Regions from separate parts of the Homo sapiens genome. Here all the other regions are reported to be linked to region 2. The links are microRNA targets in miRTarBase. Many come from high-throughput screens and were not tested one by one. Region 2 holds a microRNA gene; each other region holds the end of a gene's coding sequence.
What was found. Region 2 holds the annotated microRNA hsa-miR-429 (UAAUACUGUCUGGUAAAACCGU, at 4,604-4,625, opposite strand). A microRNA usually pairs through its seed, bases 2 to 8, with sites in the 3' UTR of a target mRNA and lowers its output. Matches are read on the target gene's strand: a 7mer-m8 pairs with bases 2 to 8, a 7mer-A1 pairs with bases 2 to 7 and ends in A, and an 8mer does both.

Region 1 (7,194 bases), not on the chromosome of region 2:
TGGAAGGCTTTCCACTATTTCATAGCAATGATTAGATTTGTTCCATTTTATCTCACATTACCCTAGTACCTGCAGATAGGAGTTACACCAATGCAAAATTTGTTCTCTTCTTGGGGAAGTGAGAGGGAATAGTGGTTAAGATAAGGTCTCTAGAATTTCTCTGCCTGAGTTCAAATTCAGGTTCAGTGACTCCTTCACTATGGGACCTTGAGCACATCACTTAATATCTCTGTAGCTCACTCTCCTTATCTTTATAACAGCATAATAATACTGCCTGCTTGGTAGGCTTCTTGGGAAGATTAAATTAGTTCATACGAGTTAATGTATTAATGTAAAACACTTATGACATAGCGATTACTTGTGTAAGTTTTATAAACACTAAAGGGAATATTTAAGGTAATGAAAGTTGTTTCTAAAAATGGCATAGGGTATCTAAGGAGGTGGTGAGTTCAATACCCACTGTGGGGCTCACACATATATTCCTTACAACCCTGGGAATATCATATGCAGCCAGATAATATATTTAAATATCAATCAATTTTTTTCCTCCCAATATTTCACTCTTACCTCCCAACCCCAGCACTCCCAAACAACTTCATAATTTCTGCTCCCCTGGGACGACTTTACTTTGGGATATTCTCTATTTCAGGGTATGTCAAAAGCAGAAGGAAGAGAGAGAAGGGAACCCCTTCCTGGGTTTTGTGGTTCCATAGCTTAGGGCTTGAAGGGAATAAAAAGGATTCAGGGTACAGAAGAAACTCAAAAAAGATGCAAACCTCCAGGCCTGGGACAAGGTCAGGATGCTCTAGGTTAAGTGGAGTGAAAGGATCCTCAAATAGGATCCTGTGTTTCCCCTCTAGCAAAGTTCCAAGAGGGGGCGGGACCACTAGATAGATGAGAGTTTGAGGGCAGGGATGAGTTTTGGTATAAGGCAGACTTAAAGGTCTTCTTGACCTTTAAGTTGTTCCCTGGAGCAACAGTGGCAGGAGGTAGAAGAGCATCGGATGAGAATGAGGCAACTTTCTTGGACCAAAAAGGAAAGGCCAAAGAGAGGGGCTCCCTCAGCAGATATCACGGAAAGTGGACACCAAGCATTCAATGTCTCCTTTCCACAATGTGTACCATGTAAGTCCCCCAGAATTTAGACATAATCACAGGGACAGGAGGAATCCAAAATTGACGGTAAGGCCAGCTTCATGAGTGTGTGACCTATGCGGTCACATAGGACTCTGTCCTTCAGAAGAGTCCAGTGCTTGGTTCAGTGCTTGGTTCAATGCTTTGCTTTTGCCATCTCATGATTTTGAATAATTTTTTAACAAGGGGTTTGCATTTCCATTTTGCACTGGGCCCTGAAATTTATGTATTAATTCCTGCTTGACTTCTATTAACTTTTCTTAATCACAGTAGAAAGAGGAATTCAAATAGAAATTAAGTTGATTAGAGAAAAATAAAGTTATATTTCTGTATATCTGAGTTTGCAGTTTGATTTCTGTACTAATACATGCAAGCCAAGACCAGATGAGTAAAGTCAAACAAGTTCTGACCATGAAAATGAGTAGTGAGATTTGACTTGGATGCAGAGGGTATGTTGTGCAGGGTAAAGATAAAATTGGAAAATGTGGTTGGAGGTGTGAGGGTGGTCCATCTTGAAGACCTCTACAATGGAGAATATCAAGACAGTCTGGCATATTTGGAATTACTTGAGGCCCTGAAATACACAGCCATGTTTGAAGCCTCCATATATAATACTAAAACTAGCCTTGTAACAAGAGAACACTTTAAAATGGAGAAGACAGCTAAGGGGCAGTACTTTGATCCCAGATAAACCTGACACTCAATCCTACCTCTGCTGCATCAGCTGGAGAGCATCAAATTTTCAATTCTCATTTATAGAAGAGGAAAGGCTCATATCACTTACTTTTGTGGGTTACTGTGAGGATAAAATGGAAAGATGTCCATATAGTGTTGCGTAGAGTAGAGACTCCCAAACTCACTGTATAAAACTCATAGAGAACTATTTACAAGTGAGGTTATCCTTTTCCTGAGTTTGAATATCTACTATATGACAGGCTACATCTTTAGGGACCATACCTAGAATATTTTGTTGTTCAATAAATGGATATACAGTAAACACACATTGCAGGAAAATGAGCCAGTGTGGGCACAAAACTCTGGGAATCTAGTCTAGTCCAGTGGGAGTGGGGTTTGGGGCTCTAACAGTACTGGTTCAACCAGTAACCAACTTATTGGTTCACTCTTGAAAAGAGCAAAATAAAAATCCCATGGAACTATACCATCATTTTTGTGATAGGTAGGTAGGCTAACCTTACCAAGTTCATTGCTACTTTTGATCTGCTAAAACATGTGAATTTGGTTCACTAGAGAAATAATACTTCCTCTGATACCACCATGGGGCTTTGCTTTCTCCCTTTAATGGCATTTGAACAAGGCCCTTCTGGTCCTACAATAAATATTATACAGGAATACTTTTATACATGAGGAAATATATCTTTTACCATGACAATCCAGGCTTTTCTATGTTAGGAAAAAAAAAGTCAGGTTAACATTCAGTTTTTCAATGCAGACAAGTGATCACTAGGGAGGGAACCAAGATCAGAAAGTTCATTTTAACAGGGACCTGAACTTGGCCTCAAACTTAAAACATGGTCTCAGAGGTACAAGCGTAGTGTGTTAAATGTTTTGCCTTTTGAATATTTGATTTCAGCACAGAAGCTACAATCTAGCCTTATCCTAATGGTTTTCTGTCACTGCTGCCAACAGGAAAAGAGTTGTGACCTGCCTAATACAATGAAAGCAGCTTTTATTCACTTCCAGTGATGCACTAGAAAATAGCTCGATAATGCCAAGAAAGCATGTAAAACAAGGGAACCTCTACTACATTTCCAAATCAACCTATTTATATTTTCTATTTGAGGTTTATCTGTACCTTATAACACAGAATTCGTTTCTTTGGGGGCTTTCCAACTTGAGTGAAATTGGTGGGTCTGAGCAAAGAGCAGAATAAGGAAGAAAAACCACGTGCAAAATGCTTTGCCTTCTGCCATTATCAATGATAAGAGTGGGTTGAAAAGCGATGCTCTGAATTAAAAGTTTTCTGTGTTCAGTTGAGAGGGCTAGGGGTGAGAACCCACTGAGAACACTAAGCAGAATGGACCTTTCATTTCTTCTTTAGCTGACTCGCAGATGAAGTGAGCTTTGTGAGAGGGAATGTTTGCATTCAGTATAAATGAAAAAGTGTCTGGTCTATATCCAAAAGCAACATACAGGTGTTGAAATTCTAGCAGTAATACTAAAAGTAATAAGTTAATGAACTCTGAAATGAAATTATTCCATTTGTCAAAATCTGTTTGCCAGATTTTAAAATCTAACAGGGCATGCAGCATATGGAACATTAAAGTGTGGATACCCATTGTAGGCATAAAGAGTGCTACTGAGAAGCATGAGTTTGCCTGTTAAAGGATATAGAATTGGCCTAAAAAAAATCACAATTATTTATGTGACATGCTAACATTTTTGTGCCATTAAAATGTGTTGACAATAATGCCGTTATTTAACTTTTAATAATCCATGTGTCTATTTTTCTGGATTGCTTAGTGGCTGCTTAACACAGACTCCTGTTAGAGCAATCTGGTAATTCAAGTGGCCTCCCTTAAGTCACCTTCAGGTGGGGGAAATTAATACCTTGTGCAAATATTGCAAAGTCAACTCAGAAAGAAAACACATAGTAAATATGTAGATACAGTTTTTAATGTATCACAATGAGCAACAAACATACTTGATGAACTATTTCCAGAAGAATAAGTTCAAATACCATCTACAATAAACATCATTTCAACTATGACAACAGGTCTGTGACAAAATAAAAAAAAGTTTTCAAAACCATGTTATTTACCGTAATACGGTGCATTTGAGACTTCAAACATTACAGTAACAAAAACTAATGAGACTACTCTCTATATATAAAACATCAATAACATTTTTGGTTTAGTTTATTTAAAGTTATAGCCATAGGGGCTTTTATTAAAACCTCAGGGTGCATTTCCTATGTAACCCAGGCGTTGAGAGTACATGTTGTGTAGACAATGATTGCGCTGTGATAATCCCTTTGATATCCAGGAAAAAACAATTCTCATTCTCAACCTTTGGAGGCTGTCCTTTTATTTCTCACCCTAACAACGTCCATCCAGTTAAAGTTTTTTTTCTTTTTTTTTTCTTTTTTTGGCTGCTGTGCAGTTGTAAAAGTTTATGTCGACACACTGTCGGAATAATCATTTGTAAAACAGTCCTTTGTTTTGTGAAAAGCGTTCTGTTCCATGCTAACACACTGTTGCACATCGTGTTAACTGCCAGGACAGATCGATCTCACAATGCTGCTGCTTAACATTCATGAAAAAGGCAAAAGCAATTTTCTGAAGCCTTTGGATTCAGGACATTAGCTCACTATAGCGGCAGGATTGCACCTTAGGAGGCCATGTTGTCTCTTACGAAACACAATCAAAAAAGTGTCTTCAGGATTAAAATAAATGTTAAAATACTAAAAAAAAAAAAAATCCAAATTAAAGACATTAAAAAAGTTCACATAAAATGTATAGAATAAAGATTGCTGTGATCATCATCCGAAACAAAAACTGTACAATAATAAAATGTAAAATGAAATGTGTCTTGATTTGATCATTAAAACAGTTTGAAGCATGACTTGAGTTAAACTGTCAAACAGTTGCATTACATGCTACTTGTTCATCTCGGAAGAGAAATATCAAAAGCAATACATTTTGCATTTCTTCATATTAATAAATTTGTACCATGCACAGCCAACTACAAATATGTACAACAGCTTAGCTTTCTTTGTTCACAAGCCTTTAACTTTCTTACAAATAACCTTCTGTTACTTTGGAATGAATCACATTGTTTTACTATATCAAACACAAAAGTGATTCGTAAAATACCCTTTGACAGCTTTCACATTCTTTAAGTTCCACAGCAACAGAAAAACAGCAAAGCATAGCAATTTATAAATCAATTCACTGGGTGGTGGAAGTTGAAATTCATGGCAAGCAAAACAAAAATGTTAACACAGTAGCAGCAAATGTTGATAAAGATAATACTTTTAATGCATATATGATAAAACAAAACAGGTTAAAAAAAGTATGTAACAGAACAATACAACACAAGTGCCCAGAGTATGAATGGAAGTACAATAACCTATCCACTAAATGGCAGTGTATAGGGATATCACTGAATTCAGTCCTACGTGCGCAGGGCTAACCTCTTTATACAAAACAAATTTTTAGTCCCCTTTTTATTTTTTAAAGCAGCTTCTTTGCTTTCCCGAGAAGCAAATATACCTTTTCATAATTTTTGTTCAACTTGTACTTAAACAGTTTCAAGTATACAGTACTACTTTCATTTATGCACCAATTGTTAAATAGGTCTTTGGGTTGTTAGGAGTTAAACTTCTAACAAATGCAGACCAAACTGTTGCTGCACTACACACAAAGAAAGGAAAAAAAAGGTATCTTATTAAATTTCACATGGTCTACAAAATCATAAGTGCACTAGAGTTCAGACACAAGCAAGTACCTTGACAGTATAGCATTAAATTCACAAATGAAAAATGTCCTGTTCACATAATCCTCAGAGTCTATCAAAACTAGAATTATTACCTCTTTCAGAAAAAAAGAATGACGTCAGAGGTAAAAGTGAGAAGGTAGAGTTGGCACAGATTATTAGTATATTCTACAAGAAAAGGGTGACACTGGTATAAATATAGCTTGTGGCAATACAAACTGCAATACACAGGGCAGACACATGATTCCACTGTTCCAGATTCCCTCTGCGGTAAAACTGTACTATCCTGCAGCGTGAGCTCAAGGATCTGTGTGTTGTCCAGTAAGGGTTATAAAGTCTCTTTGTACACTAAACACACCTAGAAAATGCTTTCTAATAAAGATTGACGTTTGGGGAAAAGTCACAGTTTTACCAGGCTTCTTGCTGCTTTTAACAAATGAGAAATGTTATGTTCTGACCTGAGAATTTAAAGCTACTGAATTACACCTAACTAAACTAAGAGAAATTCTCTTTGAAACATCTGGATCATCCTCCCATACAGTACATGCTAGCATTTGGAAATCAATCCAGCTGAGGTGCAATTTGCTTTCTTGAGAGTTTTTGGCTTGAAACAAGTTCCAAAAGAACTTGTGAGATTTTTTTTTCCTTTTCCATATTTTAGCATATAGTACAAGCGCATTCAACCATCTGCATCAGTTCTGTCCATTACATACCATCCTATATTGCCAGCATATCAATATGGGAAAAACAATCCTGAGTCAATCATTTGGTACTGTAATTTTTGGGTTAGAGAAGCTTTGGAACTGCAGTTAAAGTCTTATTTTTTTTTTATTTTTTTATTTTTTATTTTTTTAAGCACGGGATCCTGTCTTCACTCCTACACACTGAACATATCCATTCGGATGCTATTGAAATTACCATCTAGGCCAGAAGCAGGCTTAGCCTTCACTTCCAAAGAATTATCTAAGTCTTCTAGCTTCTGGCTCAGCTCACTGTCAGACTCATCTGAACAACTTTCTGTGGGTAGTGAGGTTTGAACCCCTGAGGTGCTGCACAAACTTGAGGTAACCGTTGAAGGCAAGGAAAGGGAAGGAGGAGAAGAAGGGGGAGAAGCAGCTCTCCTGGCAGACGCTTGGAAAAGGATATTAGGCCAGGACTTCATGGAGAAGCAAGAAAGATGAGGATAGGTGTTATTAGAAGAAGCTGCAGACTGCGAGGTAGATGTGGTGTTAGGATTAGGGGAGCAGACTGAGTGAGGTAATAATCTAACATGCTCTTTGGCATTTCTCATTGCTTGTTTGATTGTTTTCTCTTTGTGCAAGCTTGACTGGAGGTGTTGGCTAAGTGCTTCATTCCCACTGATAGCCACATCACAGGCAAGACACTGATATTTGCTGACTGGGACACGAAGCACTGTCTCTTGTGGGTCAATCAAAGGCTGACCGAAATAACAGAAGGACTTTTGATGATTTACTGCGGCGTCTTCATCAGTAAACATCATCTGGCACTTTCTGCATATAAACTCATACTTGACGAATGGAACAACGTAAGTGTCTGAAAAGTCTGCACTTTTGGATTCTAACTGGGGTTCTTCTTTTGTGCTTT
Region 2 (7,194 bases):
CCAGTTGCTGCCCCTCCGCCCGGCCCTCCCAGGATGGTCCCTGAGCCGTCTCTCAGGCCCCACCCATGCTCAGCACCCCAGGACCTGGCCCGGGCCAGGCTCTGCGTGCACCCTGGTGATGTTGGCTGGATACACGGCTGCCGATCCCTGAGCATTCTCTGTGCTTCACGTGGTCGGGTCCCTGTTCTCACTCCACAGCGGACGAGGTGCCACTGTGCCCCCCTCTGCAAACAGGAACCGGGGGCTCCACAAAGTGAGTGCCCCCCAGAGGGGGACTCACATCTATCGGTCCAAACTGCACCTTTCTGTAAGCCCCTCGCTGTGTCACAGACCTCGGCCAAAGTGAAGCATTCCGCAGGGGTTTGGGCCGTGAGGAACAGCCTGCCCGACACCTGACTTGAACACTCTGCGGGGAAAAACACCGAGGAACATCACGATTACCTTCTGCGGGAACAAGGGCCAAACAAACGGCCTCATCCTGAAGCCGTGTGGCCCGGGCCGCTCCCACCCATACCTATAGGCACCCCAGCCCGTAGGCGGCAGTGGGCTCTGGCATCCAGCTGGTCCCCCACCTCTGCAGGTGTTTGCAATGTACCCGTGTTGATGTAAGGCTGCCCTTTCTCCATCTCTGTGTGTCTTTGTTTAACCCTCACATTCTCTCTTTTTTTTTTTTCAAAATACGGAGTCTCACTCTTTTGCCCAGGCTGGAGTGCAATGGTACGGTCTCGGCTCACTGCAACCTCCGCCTCCCAGGATCAAGCAATTCTCCTGCCTCAGCCTCCCGAGTAGCTGGGATTACAGGTGCCCACCACAGTGCCCAGCTAATTTTTGTATTTTTAATATTAATTTTATTTTTTATTTTTATTTTGTTTTATATTTTATATATTTATTATTTTATATATTATTTTCTATATTATTATAATTATTTTATTATTAATTTATTATTAATTTTAGAGGGTTTCATCATGTTGGCCAGGCTGCTCTTGAACTCCTGACCTCAGGTGATCCGCCCGCCTCGGCCTCCCAAAGTGCTGGGATTACAGGCGTGAGTCACTGCGCCTGGCCTGCCCTCGCCTTCTCTTTAAAACACCTAATGATACGAGGTCTGGGAGTCCTGGGCTCCTGGCATGACCCATGGCACGGTCTGATCCCCTCTGCCTCAAACTCTGAGCCTCCAGCCACGTGTCCCCTACCCATCCGTGTCCTTCAGAGCTTTGCGTGGGTCACGAGGGCCTCTGTGCTTAGGGTCCCCTTGCAGGGGGCTGGTGGTGCCCCCAAAAGACAACCACATCATAGCCCTGAAACCTCGAATGTGACCTTATTTAGAAGAAGGGGCTTTGCAGGTGGGGTTACGTCAGGATCTCTAGTGACATCACCCAGGGCAGGCCCTGAATCAATGGCCTCTGCCCCCCTGAGAGGGAGGTGGAGAGAGGAGACGCAGACGTGGGGGAGACGCCGTGGGACTGGGGGGCAGAGATGGGTGACACGGCCACAGCCACTGATGCCTGAGCTGGCAGGGGCTGGGGAGGCAGACAGGGTCCTCTCCTGGAGCCCCCAGAGGGGTGCAGCCCTGCCTGCCCTGTGGCTTTGGAGTTCTGGCCTCCAGATGCGGGCGTAAGCGTCTGTTGTTGTGCCTGCCTGTGTGGTTTTTCAGCAGCCGGGAGGAGAAGCCACCCTTTCGAGAGTGTGGTGCCCGCTCCGGAGCCGCCTCCCCGACCCACGCCGGGGCGGCAGCCTGGGGGTTCCCCGCTCTGTGTCCCTGGGGCCTGAGCTGTGGGGGAAGAAGGGGCCCCGGCTGTCCCTGGGGAGTCCCTGGAAGGAAGAGAGAGCTCTCGGAAGCGGGGCGGTGGGGGGCGTCTCCCACCGTCCTCCTGGTTCTGTCCAGCTGGGAACAGTGTCCTCGTCCCCTCCCCGCACTCCCACCTTGCGCCTGGTGCTCAAGCTTTGAGATGGTCCCGCTGGACCCTGGTGCGGAGCAGACCCAGGAGGCCCCTCTGCCCTCTGGGAGCCTCAGGTCAGGTGGCAGGTGGGGCTGGGGCAGGTCCTGGGCTGAGTGGCTGGGCCTTCGGGGAGCAGGGCCCACTTGGTGGGGGTGACGGGTGGGGGGTTCCTTCGGTGGCTGCTGTGGCTCTCCAGGCTGGGAGCAGCAGATCCGGGTTCGGAAGCTCTGACTCTGGGAAGGGGCCTACGTGTGTCCCCTCCTCCCTGAGGCTGAGGCAGGTGGCCTGACAGGAGCTGATGGGGATGGGAAGGACTCGCCCAGCTCCTCTCCAGAACTGGCCCTTCCGGGAACAGAGCAAGGCAGGGTCCTTGCCCCTGGGCTGGGAGGGAGAGCCCCGTGTTCATCTTTGTGGCGCACCGGCCTTTGGAGGATGTGATCTGGACACACACCTCGGAGGACGGGTTTCCTTGTGTGGGGGGAGAGGGGGTGCAGCGGGCAGGTCCCCCAACCCCTGCAGCCTCCCCTCCCTGGGGCCCCACACAGGCCTGAGGACTCCCCACCGCCCTCAGAAGCCCCCAGGCTCCCCAGCCAGGCACTACCTCGTCCCTCACAGCTTTCCTGAGTTCAAACTTGAAAACTCTGCCCCTTAATCCCAAAATCTGGGTGGTGTGGCAGCCACGGATACCTGTAGCCCCAGCAAGGTTCCTGCGCAGGGCAGGTGGGAGCAGGACCTTGGGCCGTGGGTGTGCCCGGCCCGCGTGTCCAGGTGGGTGCAGCCCCCAGGGCCAGGCAGAATGGGGGAGGCCTGGCACCTCTCGGGCAGTGGGTGGGGTCTCCAGGCAGGCCAGGCCCTGCCACTGGAAGGGAGGTGGCCCCTTTGCCACCAACCTGTGGCTGTCACCGGGGCAGGTGTGGCTGGACCAGGAAGCCCTCCTGGCTGGCGCCTGGCTGCCTCCATCCTGTCCGCAGCCCTCGCTCCTGCTGGCCGGCACCATACGCTCTTGGTCACCTGCTCAGAGAGGCCCCCCAGGGCCACCGGCTGCCCCCTCGGTAGCTCCCTTCAGCACAGGCTGAGGTGTCTCCACTCAGGGACTCCCCCTTCCCCCAGAACCTTGACCTGAGCTGACCACAGGAGAGTCAGGGAAGATTCCTGAGCAAAAGAAGGAGGGAGGGAGGGACGGAGAGAGGAGGAGGAGGGAGGAGGGGGAAGGAGGGATGGAGGAGAGGAAGGAGGAGGGGGAGGGAAAGAGGAGGGAAGGGAGGGAGGGAGCCTCTCCCAGGAACCTTGGGGGCCTCCGGGGCCGGATGCAGTGTCTGGGGTTCTGTCCTCAGCTGGGCCCTTTGCACGGCGGGGGTCTGTGCACGTGTGGTTAAAATAAGGAGCTGGTCCAAGCATGGGTGCGTGAACTGCAGACTTTATTACTATACAAAGACTTTTTTCTGTTTTGTTCCCGGTGCTTATGGAGAGGAGGAGGAGGAGGAGAAACCGCACAGGGAGGCTCTGGGTACGGCCCCGCCAGCCCCAGCAGGGTCCTTCCTGTCACACCCCGTGCAACGCAGCAGGCGCTGTGGAGAGTGAGCCCCACTGCAGTGTGGGGCGCAACTTCATCCGAGGGGTGCTTGGAGGGACTGGCCAGACGGGCACAGCGGTGAGGAGGTGCTGGGATGGGGAAGGTCCCCGAGCTCCGGGCGGTGTTGGATGAGCTCAGGCTCACAGGTGTGGCCCTGCCTGGCCCGAGCTCTCCAGGTGTGTCCAAACCTTGTGTTATATGCACCTTGCAGTCCAGGGCTCACCCGTGCGGTCTGGTGAGGTGGACGCCACATTCTGGGGGTGGCACTCCAAGTTCTTCCCCACACACGTCGCTCAGGCGGCAGCAGCATGGGGGTGGTTTCAGCTGGCCCTGCGGGGGACTGCCCCATCTCCCCAGGGAGGAAAGAGGGTCTGGAGATAGCCCCGGGTGGGGGAGGTCAACCTGCAGATCCCGGCTTGGGGACAGCTCCAGATGACACCTCGTGAGCCGCCTGGGGTGGAGGGGCCCCCAGTGCAGGGCTGCGTGGCCCCAAGCACCTGCCTTCCCTATCCCATGGTCTTGCAGCTGGGCACCGGCCCCGCCCGCCTCAGCCCCAGAGATGGGCCCTGGAGGGAGAGTGTGGTCTGCATCCCACGGCTGGCCCCTGGAGGAGGAGGGCCAGGGCTGGCCCCGGGAACCTCCCAGAGGTCTCTGCGTCCTGCTGCCTGGCCGCTGAGACGCTGTGACATTGTCCCTGCTGGGCATTTGTGCTCCTCCGTGCCCTGGGCTCAGGCACTTTGGGGGGCCCAGCTGCTTCTGTCTCAGCCTCCCCAGGTGGCGAGGGGGCTGGGGCTGTGGGGTGGGGCTCCGGGTATCTGTGACTGTGACCCCAGGGGCCAGGCTGATAGCACGGGGTCCACAGCATCTGCCCGGGGACTACAGCTCGAGGGCCCCAGGAGGCCGGGTGGGCACAGGCCATGGCGAGGGTGGGGCACAAGAGCCCCAGACCCCGGCGGCTTTGCACTGATGGGCTGCGGATGGGCACAGGCCATAGTGAGGGGGGCATGAGAGCCCCAGACCGGGCGGCTTTGCACTGATGAGCTGCAGGGCAGGCAGCTCTCTCCTCTAACGGTGATCAGGCAGCGGATGGACGGTTTTACCAGACAGTATTAGACAGAGGGCCAGGTCTAACCATGTCTGGTAAGACGCCCATCGGCCGGCGGTGGTGTGGGTGGCCTCCGGGTCCTGGGCTGGTGTCTGCGGGGCCTGTGAAGGGAAGGCCCCGGGGGCGGCTCCTGCCACCTCCTGCAGCTGCCCTGATCCCTCCTGGGTCTGCAGAACGAGCCCCCGAGGCACTTCCCTGACAGCCCCCATCCCAGCACCTGGTCCCAGCCCAGCCTGGCTGTGTGGGGGTACCCGGGAGCCACCTGGTCACCCAGGCCCTGCTCTTGGCAAAGGTTCCCTGCAGCCCCTCGCTGGCTTCCTGAAGCTCGGTCGGGTTAATGAGTAACAGTGAAGGGCAGCCTCTCCCCGGTGGCTGCCCCCTCCCCAGGCTGGGGCCTTGTGTGGGGGTGCGGTCCCAGGCGCCCTGGTTGCAGATGGAAAAGATGAAACAATGGGTCATCCTGGCCTGGTGGGTTTTGGACAAAGTTCCTGTTCTTGTTGACTGGGGGAAGGAATGAGACCCCTTGTCCCTCAGAGGGCAAGCGCAGAGCGTCCCCGCTCCCCTGCATGGTGGGGCTCGGGAATCTGAACCCACCTTGTCCTTCCTGCGCCCCCAGCAGACCCTCCACGGAGCCCGGACCACGTGAGAGAGGCCACTGTTGCTCTTCCCTCTCCAGCCCTGGCATCCCAGCCCTATGGCCTTTCCTGGAGCCAGGTCACCCTAAAACCCAGCCTGGGAGGTTGGGTGGGGGAGGCACAGCGGCTCCGGGAGGGGGAGCAGGATGCCCTCCAGGCCACCTGTGGAGGCACCAAGGGGTCCTCAAGGTGTCAGACCCAGCCTGGGCGTGAGTGACCCCGGGGGCACCCCCGGCAGAGGCCGGCCCCTCCCCTGGGGGCTGGACTTCGGAGCTGACACAGGCCCTCTGCCGCCCGCTCAGCCCTCCGCCCTCACCCGTCTGCTGGCCCCGCTCGGCCCTCCGCCCTCACCCGTCTGCTGGCCCCGCTCGGCCCTCCGCCCTCACCCGTCTGCTGGCCCCGCTCGGCCCTCCGCCCCAGCCCATCCCTGGAGTAGGAGCTCCGGATGTGCCTCGGTGGTGTCCCCGGCGAGCGGCGGGTCACCTTTGAACATCGTTACCAGACAGTGTTAGAGTCAAGCTGGGAAATCCAGCACTGTCCGGTAAGATGCTCACAGGGGCCCGGGAGGGACGTGGGGTCCCGCCAGGCAGGCAGGGGCTGCTGTGGAAGCCCAGGGAAGAACCGGAGCGGTGAGCAGCCAGGGGTGGTGCCGGGACCGGACAGGGCTGGCGGAGAGGGGCTTGGGGGCCCTGAGACTGCACACAGGCCCACCCTCCCTGCTTCCTCCAGGGCAAGGGGACCCTGGGGCTGCTGACCCGGGACCAAGGCGGGGGCACTGGTCTGCTCGGTGGCCGGCCCACCCTGTCCGGCAGGAGGGAAGATGGCTGTGGCCAAGCTGGGTGGGGCGGCTTCCTCTGGGTTCCACGTGGCTCCCGGTTGGGCCTTGCCCTCCTGAGCCCTCTGTTGGGTCCTGCTCGGCCCGCACCTGCTGGGTGTGACAGCAGCTCCCGCCCAGGCGCTGTGGGCAGGGCCCGGACACCTGAGCGTCCTAATCCCCAGATCACTGTGGGGCGCCCTGGGTGCAGCTGCAGGAGGCCTTGCATTCCGGGGTCTCTGAGATGCTGGTGGGGGGCGCCCCAGCCCCCTTCCGAAGGTCACGTCCCCCCGTCACTCTCCCCAGAGCCATCTGGCCCGGACGGGGTGGGGTCCGGTGAGCGGGCTGTGTGGGAGGGGAGTGTGGGGCTCGGCGGGAGGCCCTGGGGGCCGGGACGGGGTCGGCCGGTCGCTGCGTGCAGGGCTCCGCCGTCATCATTACCAGGCAGTATTAGAGACCTGACTCCATCCAATGCTGCCCAGTAAGATGGCCACGGCTGCCCGAGCTGGGTCCGGGGGCCGCCCGGCTGAGGGTTGCATGGGACTCGCTGGGAAGCTCAGTAGCTGGGGGGCCTCGTCCTCCTGGGGCACTGAGGACAGCATCGCCGGAGGGCAGGGGCCCGGGTGAGCCCCACCCGCCAGCCCTGCCGAGTCCAGCAGCCACCAGCTTTGGGTCCTGGGGTGGGCACCTGGGGGGCCGAAGTGTCCTGGCCAGACGGCCGAGGACTAGGTCGGAGTGGGGCTGACACGGGCCCTCTGCCCGCCCCGCTCGGCCCTCTGCCCCCACCCCTCTGCGGGGGACCTTCCCTCTGGGTGGTCCCATAGGAAGGCCTGGACAGCAGCCCCAGCCCCCCGGGCCCCACGTGCTGCCTTGTCTGAGGCAGGGGACAAGGGCCTCTGTCTCCAGGATGGTGTTCCAGGAGCTGCTTCCCTGCCCAGCCCCTTCTCTTCTCAAAGGCCCGGTGTCTGCGAGGCTCTCGAGACAGAACGGTCCCCGCCACCTGGAGACCCCTCTCCCATGCTGCCCCGCTCACTGCACAGCGTCTGAGGGCAGGGGGTGCAGGCGGGGGTGGGGGTGGGGGTGTGGGTGGGGGTGCGGGCGGGGCAGGCTCCTGACCCTGCCCAGCC
Region 3 (7,194 bases), not on the chromosome of region 2:
ACATTGTGACAATTGTCACATCTTCTAGATGAGGCTCACACAGGCTAAGCAATTAGCCAGAATCACAAACTAACAGGCAATGTTTTCTTCTTGCCCACAAGAGAAAGCTTTTCTTGTCTTGCAACACTTTATTGTTTTTTTCTTTTAAGGTTTTTATTACAAAGGTCAATGTCTATTGGCCTTTTAATAAAAGTAATTATTATTTAGTACTTAGTATACATATGCAAGGCATTGTTCTAAGGGTTTTACAAATATTAACTCATTTAATCCTCCTAACCATTCCATGAGATAGACACTATTTTTATCCACATTTTACAGATAAGGAAACTGAGGGACAGAGAGATTAACTTGTCCAAAATCAGAGGACTGGTAAACAGTAGCAGTGAAATTTGAATCCAGCAGTGAAGCATAGCTCCACAGTGTGTGCTCTTAAACATACACTATTCTGCTTGAATAAGAGTCTACAAAGATCCTTACTCAGGACATATGAGGAGTTGTTCAGCAAGAAAAGAAGCATGTTTACTCCTCCCTATTTGATGTATTTGATTATATTCTAAAACCTTTCCTCATGCCAATAGAACTCCGCGTATTATACTAAACTTTCCTGCACCGAAGGCATATGTAATGGTTACCTTGACTGACATGTAAAATACCCAAAACAAAATACCCCGAGACTCGAGGATTTTTTGTTTCATGAATTAGACACCAAAAAAAAAATTGTCTAGGCATCAGAAGTGTTATACACTCACATCTGTAAGTCTTTCTTGGGATTTTCAGATTTCTTATACAAGATTTTTTTTTGTCTGAAATATTTCAGTGCTCACTCAATGCCTGAGCTTGAAAATTATCTAATCCTTTTTAATTTTTTCATTTTCAGCTACTTTGCCTTCAGGCATAGGGCAGGGCAAGCACTTGCTTTCAATATGATGTTTAACACTTTTTATGTTTTTATTTTCGTCATCTTGAAAACATGCTAGTAAACATCCAAACATACTGTAAAGATTTAAAATTTGGGGTGTGTATACGTATATCAACAGGAGTTATGAATTATGTATATTGCAGGCCTATATAAATTAGATTTTGAAGAACAAGCATCACAGTAATCAAGCGGGTCATAATAAGACATTCCATGTGAAATGTAAAAACTACCTTGAATAAATTATCTGTAAGTTAACATTCTCATTAGAATGACATATTTATTATTTCTGGGTTTGTGATATTGCTTTAATGTATTTTGGCTAACTGTTTTAATGGCATATTAAGAAACCATTTCAGGCCTTTTTTCCCCGTTGGAATTTGCAGACTTTTATTTCCGTTTGAACTAAAATAATATAATATTAAAAACAATCCCCCACTTCCCAATGTACAATACCATTTTCTTCTGCCCAGAAATATTTAATTAAAGCAGGATATAACCTCAGTAATTATTTTTACACAGAATGACTCTTAAATTAATAGTCAGTTGTATGACTAAAAATTGGGAGACTGACAATCAAAACAATCTTAAATGCTTTGTTTATGTGATGAAAATGAGTGATCCTTTAATTCCCTCACACACATTAAACTGATTTCACAGATTTTCTGTACTGGTGTTTAACATAGTCAAGTGCTTGAGGTTATGTAAAATAAACAATCTTGAGATCTTATTGCAAATGTTTGCAATTTATGATGTAAACTGATTTGTGAAGAAAAAACAGGATCCTATGTCGCTGAAGCCAAAGAGGCATTTTTCAGAAATCAAAATAGTTCCGAAATTTGAGCATTGCATTATACTAAAGTATTACCATCTGAGGACCCAAAAAAGTTATAAATCTGGGGAAAAACTCAAAATAGATGTACATCAGTTCAGCTCCAAGCAAAGGCACCGATCTTACTATCTTACTGTGTCTCTTGTATCATAGGGTCCTTAACACTAATGATGTCTTAAACAATCTCTTTTAACTCAGTTTTTCCCAGTCATTGATTTTGCAACTCGGGAAGGTTTTGCATGCCCAAAAGATTTGGGGAGCAGAGGATGGGGGTGTCCTTTATTAATTATATTAGGATTATTGAGTTTCGACCCAAACTACAAGCATGTTGGGCCTTATTTAAATTTAAAGTGAATTCCTCAGACCCCTTCTTGGGATGGTTCGGGGAACTACGAGTTTGGAACTCTTGTTCACACACCGAGGCGCCTGCCCCAGAGTTTGGACACTGGCATTCCGGGAGAGCAGGCCTTGCGGGAGTCTGGACCCGAAGGGCGAGACTCCACAGGGCCAAGGAAAGCGGCCTCTGTCCTCCGTTAGTCTTGGGGGAGCAGACGCAAGAGGAGGCAAGGGCGCCGCGAGCTCCCCGGATGCACTGGTCCCACAGGCCGTGCCCGAGTGGAGCACTGCGAATGGGGCCAAGAAATTTTGGCCTTTCTCGCCGGACCTGGCTGCCTCCGCGGGCCTCTCCGCCTACCGCGCTCCCGCCGCGGCCCGACTCCCGCGGGTCTCCGCGCCGAACCCACCTGGCTCCTATCGCACGGGACATTCCCGACCCACCCACGCCGCGTCACTGAGCCTCTGTACCGATACCCGGCGCCTCCGCCAGCAGGGCCTGGACGCACCGCCTCCTTTGACCTCGGGCTTCCCCCGCGCTCCGCTGCTTGGGGCAGACTGGCCCCGAGAGGGAGCCACCATCTCCCCTGCTCCAGGGTCTCCAGGGTCCGAACCCGTGTTGGGATCTGGGTTAGGATTAGGGTTTGGAGCTTGGAGCCTGCCTGTTAGGACCCCCGGCCCCGGCGCCGACTGGAGCTCGCTGGAGGCCACAGGACCACGGCGGATGGCCTGGCTGCTTCAGGGCGTACCATGCCCGCAGGCAGATGTTTATTATTAAAAACTACCGACGTTCATCAACCAGGAGACCCGCAAGGCCTGCGCACTGAATACGGCCCAAATCCTGTTCAGTGGTCTTTGAAAGTTAAAAGAAAGAAACCTATCGCCCACGTCTATGCTGAGGAACAGCTTTGAATACGAGCTAAGACCTGGGAGAGGGCCAAGTGGGGGTGGTGGGGAACACTGCTGGAGGATGTGGGGCTTTGGCAGGGGTTTTACGCACCCTCCAGCACGAGGGTGGGGGGTCCCAGGGGACGCTCAGGACTCTTTCAGTCTTTGCGGAAGGTCCCGTCATCACAAGAGCCCGCGCGGGAAGGAAAGTTCCTGCCTTGGACATGGTCAGGGCCGAGTCTTCAAAGTCTCCAACTATCCCCACACAGGCAGCACCTTTGGGCTTTACTAGTGGGATTTCTTCCAGAAGGGGGCCACGACATGGGGAGAGAGAGCTCCTCATTATTTTCAAGGCCAGGCTTTTCCTAAACCCGATTCTGGCTTCCACCTTCTAAATTTAACCAATGAAGAAGCTGCTTCAGCCAACCCTAAACAGGAGTGTCAGATGGGGAATCCTCCCTCCACAGTGCCCTGGCCTGCCCGCCTTTGCGGCTCTTTTCCCGCTCCGAAGTCAGCACCTGCCCCGCTCCAGAGAGGGTCAACGAACTGGGACTGATTGTCGATTATGCCATACCAAACCCAGGTTGATTTCGCTCCGCAGGATCCCTCCTTCCTTCCTCCCAAAAGTGTCCCCAGATAAAGACTGGAATTATAGCAAAACGAATAACGAGAGTCCATCTTGGGGAAGGAAGTTACTCTATCCTATGTTATTTTACTTCTTATCTGTTCTTTCATTAATTTGGTATAACCCTGTTTCTATGCTGGGTGGATAAAATGGAGGGGGCCGGCGGAAATGCGCTCAGCGCTAACGACAGCCACAGAGCCACCCTTCTTACTGCCCCTTGACTGCGGCACGTAAGAGCAGAGGCAAGCGCTTTTCCAAGTTGGTATATTCGAGAGAGTGATACGCATTAATCAAAAGGGAAAGACTATCCCGGATATTTTAATAGTAACAGGAACAAAGATGACTCGAACCCCATCAAATGAAACGATATTTTCATTCAATTGATCGCAAAGTGTCTTCAATTAATAACTTGGCACTTATTTAAAAGGTTTAACAGAATTGGAGGCGACACATTTTGTACTGACAACACGTCATGAGATAACATCTTTTGTTTAAAATAACTTAATACACTAGAAAAAAATATGTCAAATATAAATAATTTTGTTTTCATGGAGAACAAATAGTTACAAAGCTCAACCGCATACCAAAGTTCAGTTAGAAGAGCTTTTCCTCTTTCTTGTAAATTAGAAGGTAAAACAAAAACAAAAACAAAACCCCACAAACTTAGGCTTGCTAGCGAATTGGGATACAGACTGGCTTAGTCCAAGGTATCCCAGTTTAAATAGCTACATGAATTGAAACAAACAACCAAAAGAAAAAAAAAAACAAAAAAGAAACAAACAAACAAAAAAAAAAGGTTACTTGAATAGATACACCTTTGTGAGATAAAATGCAAATGTTGAAAGTCAGTCCACACATTATAGTCAAAATAAACTTTGTTCGTGTGTATCAACATATCTTACACAAACCTAGTGCCTGTATCTAGCTGGGTGTTATTTAAGGTGAATTTGACGGGATAGAGAGGGGGAAATAAACCACTGTCTTCAAATAGGACTTCAGGAAACCAACAAGAAGGAACACAAGAAAAGGGGAATGGTGGGAACTAATACTGATTGAGCGCCTACTGTGTCTGGCACAGCGAGGCGCTGTACCTTCATTATTTCATTTGGTGGTCTTGTTTTCTTTTTCCTTTCCCCACATATTCTGCCCACCTCTGTCTTCTTAGGACAATGAGTGTAATTTTTTCCCTTTCTGACTTTTTTCTTTTGTTCCCCAGGATCAAAGACAGGGCAAATATATATATATATATATATATATATATATATATATATATATGGCAAATATATGATATATATATATGGATATATATATATCAATTTCCAGATACTTTTGGTATTGTTTTTCATAGTGAAGATGAAAATGGAGTGAGTGCATGGGAGATAAGGGGGTGGGAGGAGACACACCATCAATGGAATACAAGTAACATGCAAACCGGAATTTACTGTCAGCAGTCCAGACAGTTTTGCCATAATAATTTCTCAGAGAAATCATTGTCTGTGGCATTTTTTTGTGTTAATATTATTTTTCTCTCTCCTCGTTTTAATATTTTCTCTTTTCTTGCTCTTCCATACATGGTGGGTTTAAACTCAAAGCATCTGATTCAACGTAAAAGGAGGCCCGCCTCTCTCATCAAATTTCTCGTGTTAACGTGAACTTCGCAGAAAAAGGTCAGTTTCAAAACCTGTGAACTTCCCAGCTGCGCACTTTTTTCATCTTAGTTTTTTAAATAAGTATACCTCTTCTTTCTGCTTTGCCTTCTTAGCGCATTTTTAAAAACACACATTTAAGTTGGTAACTCCCCCCAGTCTCTCGAGAATCGTCTGGGTTGTTTTTCCATATTTTTAAATGTATAAAATACTTTAATTTTAAAATTTGTTTTTGCTCCTTGGTTCTCCAATTTCAGCTTCTGCCAAATAGCAGTTAAGAAATAAGTTCCCTTCCTCTTTTTCTCTCCCGTTTGTCTTTCGATTTTTTTGTTTGCTCATTTTTTCATTGTTAACAAGATTTTTTTTTCTATGCAAGAGTCCATCGTTGCAGCTTTGCGGTGAGCCAAACTCCGCGGTTCCAGCACTCCCCTGTCCAGTCTCTCTCCAGACTCCCCCAAACCCGCTCCTACAAAACCCAATTCTAGGCCCTCGAGTAGGAAAACGGGCAGGAGCCACGGAGCCTGCGTGCCTCGTGAGATCCCTGGTCCTGCGTGGAGTCTGGCTTTCCGAGTCCAAGATGCGATAGGGGACGAGGGATGGTCAGTGAGGCGGGAAGAGGGCCGGCTCCCGAGGTCTCAAAGGGGTAACGGAGAAGCAGCGGGGCGCGGAGGGCGTGCAGGCTGAGTGCCGCGGGACAGGCGCGACATTGGTGCTGGCGTTGGCGTCACAGACCCAGGGCTGCGGCGTGCTTTTTGGCTTTCAGTCTGAGATCGGCGATGCTGGAGTTCTTGCTGGTGGTCTTGGCGGCTGCTGCGGCCGCCACTACCGAGGCGGCGGAAGCCGAATCCGCGGCCAGCGTGGCGAGCGGCAGTCCGAAGGGCGGTGCTGGGAACATCATGTAGGGCGCGTGCGCGGCCAGGTGCGGATGCAGGTGGTGGTGCGCGTGCGCCACAGCGCTGTCCAGCTGCAGCTGCGCCTGAACCTGAAAGGACAAGGGCGTCACGTTGCAATGACTATCCTAGGGTGACAACAGAATAGAAACAGAGCATTAACGGCGTCCAGCTTGGCCAGAGAGAGAGTTGGGTTGTGTTTGGGCACGGGGAGAGGGCATTTGGCTGTGCATCTTGTTCCGACAGTGACCTTCTCAGCCTGTTGCTGAATCTGGGGTTCCACATGGATACTCCAGTGTCCCCTGGGTCTCCGAAACTCGCTTAGGGTAGGCTTATTTCCCCGGACCCCGGGAACCCCCTTCTGCAGGAATGTGGCCGTCTCCCCTGGGAACTGGGCTGAAATGGTATATTGGAAAGACTGCGGGTGAGGACCCTTACCCTCTTCTCTTGATGCTGCCATGCATCTCTTACCCCACTACCAAAACAACGGAGTATCAACAAGCAAACTACGCAACTTTTTAATGTCATTCAGGGAAGTTACTCCATCTTCACCACAATAGGCACAATTGTGAGTCGGTACTTCTAACCTTTATTGCCATAACAATTACCCAGGGATCTCGTTAAAATTCAGATTCTGATTCGCAAGGTCTAGGTTGGGGCCTGAGATTCTGAATTTCTAACAATCTCCCAGACGGTGTTGTTGCTGCTGGCCCAAAGATTACCTTTTGAGTAGTAAAGGTCTCCTTTTAAAGTCACCCCTCCCTCTTTCTTCAGTCATTCTCTCTTGTTTCCAAAGCCAAGCATCAGGATGCCAGAGTCCTGTGGCACCAAGAGAGCTAAGATCTCCCTAACACCGACTCTCAATTCATGGTCACACCTATCTGTCTCCCCGGTCCAAGTCACTGGAGACTGAGAGCTAATTCATGACATCACAGGCATGCCAAGCAGGGGTCCTGGCTGAGGATAGGGAAGGTCAGACACTGGTTGGGAAAGGATTTCGCCCTCAGGCTTGGAAAGTGGGGAGTTCAGAGCACTGGGATTTCCCAGGATTAAATCATTGCTGC

Region 1: the mRNA of ZFHX4 is a reported target of hsa-miR-429. Seed matches in the 3' UTR shown: 7mer-A1 at 5,121-5,127.
Region 3: the mRNA of SHOX2 is a reported target of hsa-miR-429. Seed matches in the 3' UTR shown: 8mer at 4,638-4,645.

Annotation. Positions count from the first base shown.
Region 1 is chr8:76,863,838-76,871,031 of GRCh38, reverse strand. ZFHX4 (zinc finger homeobox 4) reads right to left here. Exons shown (of 11, transcript NM_024721.5): 11 at 3,751-7,194. The coding sequence ends at 6,467. Among named protein-coding and RNA genes, the nearest start is that of MIR3149, 99 kb to the left of the region's middle.
Region 2 is chr1:1,166,486-1,173,679 of GRCh38, reverse strand. MIR429 (microRNA 429) reads right to left here and starts at 4,675; the gene lies at 4,593-4,675. MIR200BHG (MIR200B, MIR200A and MIR429 host gene) reads right to left here. Exons shown (of 2, transcript XR_007065348.1): 2 at 3,342-7,194. MIR200B (microRNA 200b) reads right to left here and starts at 6,576; the gene lies at 6,482-6,576. MIR200A (microRNA 200a) reads right to left here and starts at 5,817; the gene lies at 5,728-5,817. It also overlaps TTLL10-AS1. RefSeq lists an enhancer at 2,307-2,874.
Region 3 is chr3:158,092,063-158,099,256 of GRCh38, forward strand. SHOX2 (SHOX homeobox 2) reads right to left here. Exons shown (of 5, transcript NM_001163678.2): 5 at 3,843-6,222. The coding sequence ends at 5,965. Among named protein-coding and RNA genes, the nearest start is that of SHOX2, 11 kb to the right of the region's middle. RefSeq lists an enhancer at 5,936-6,105.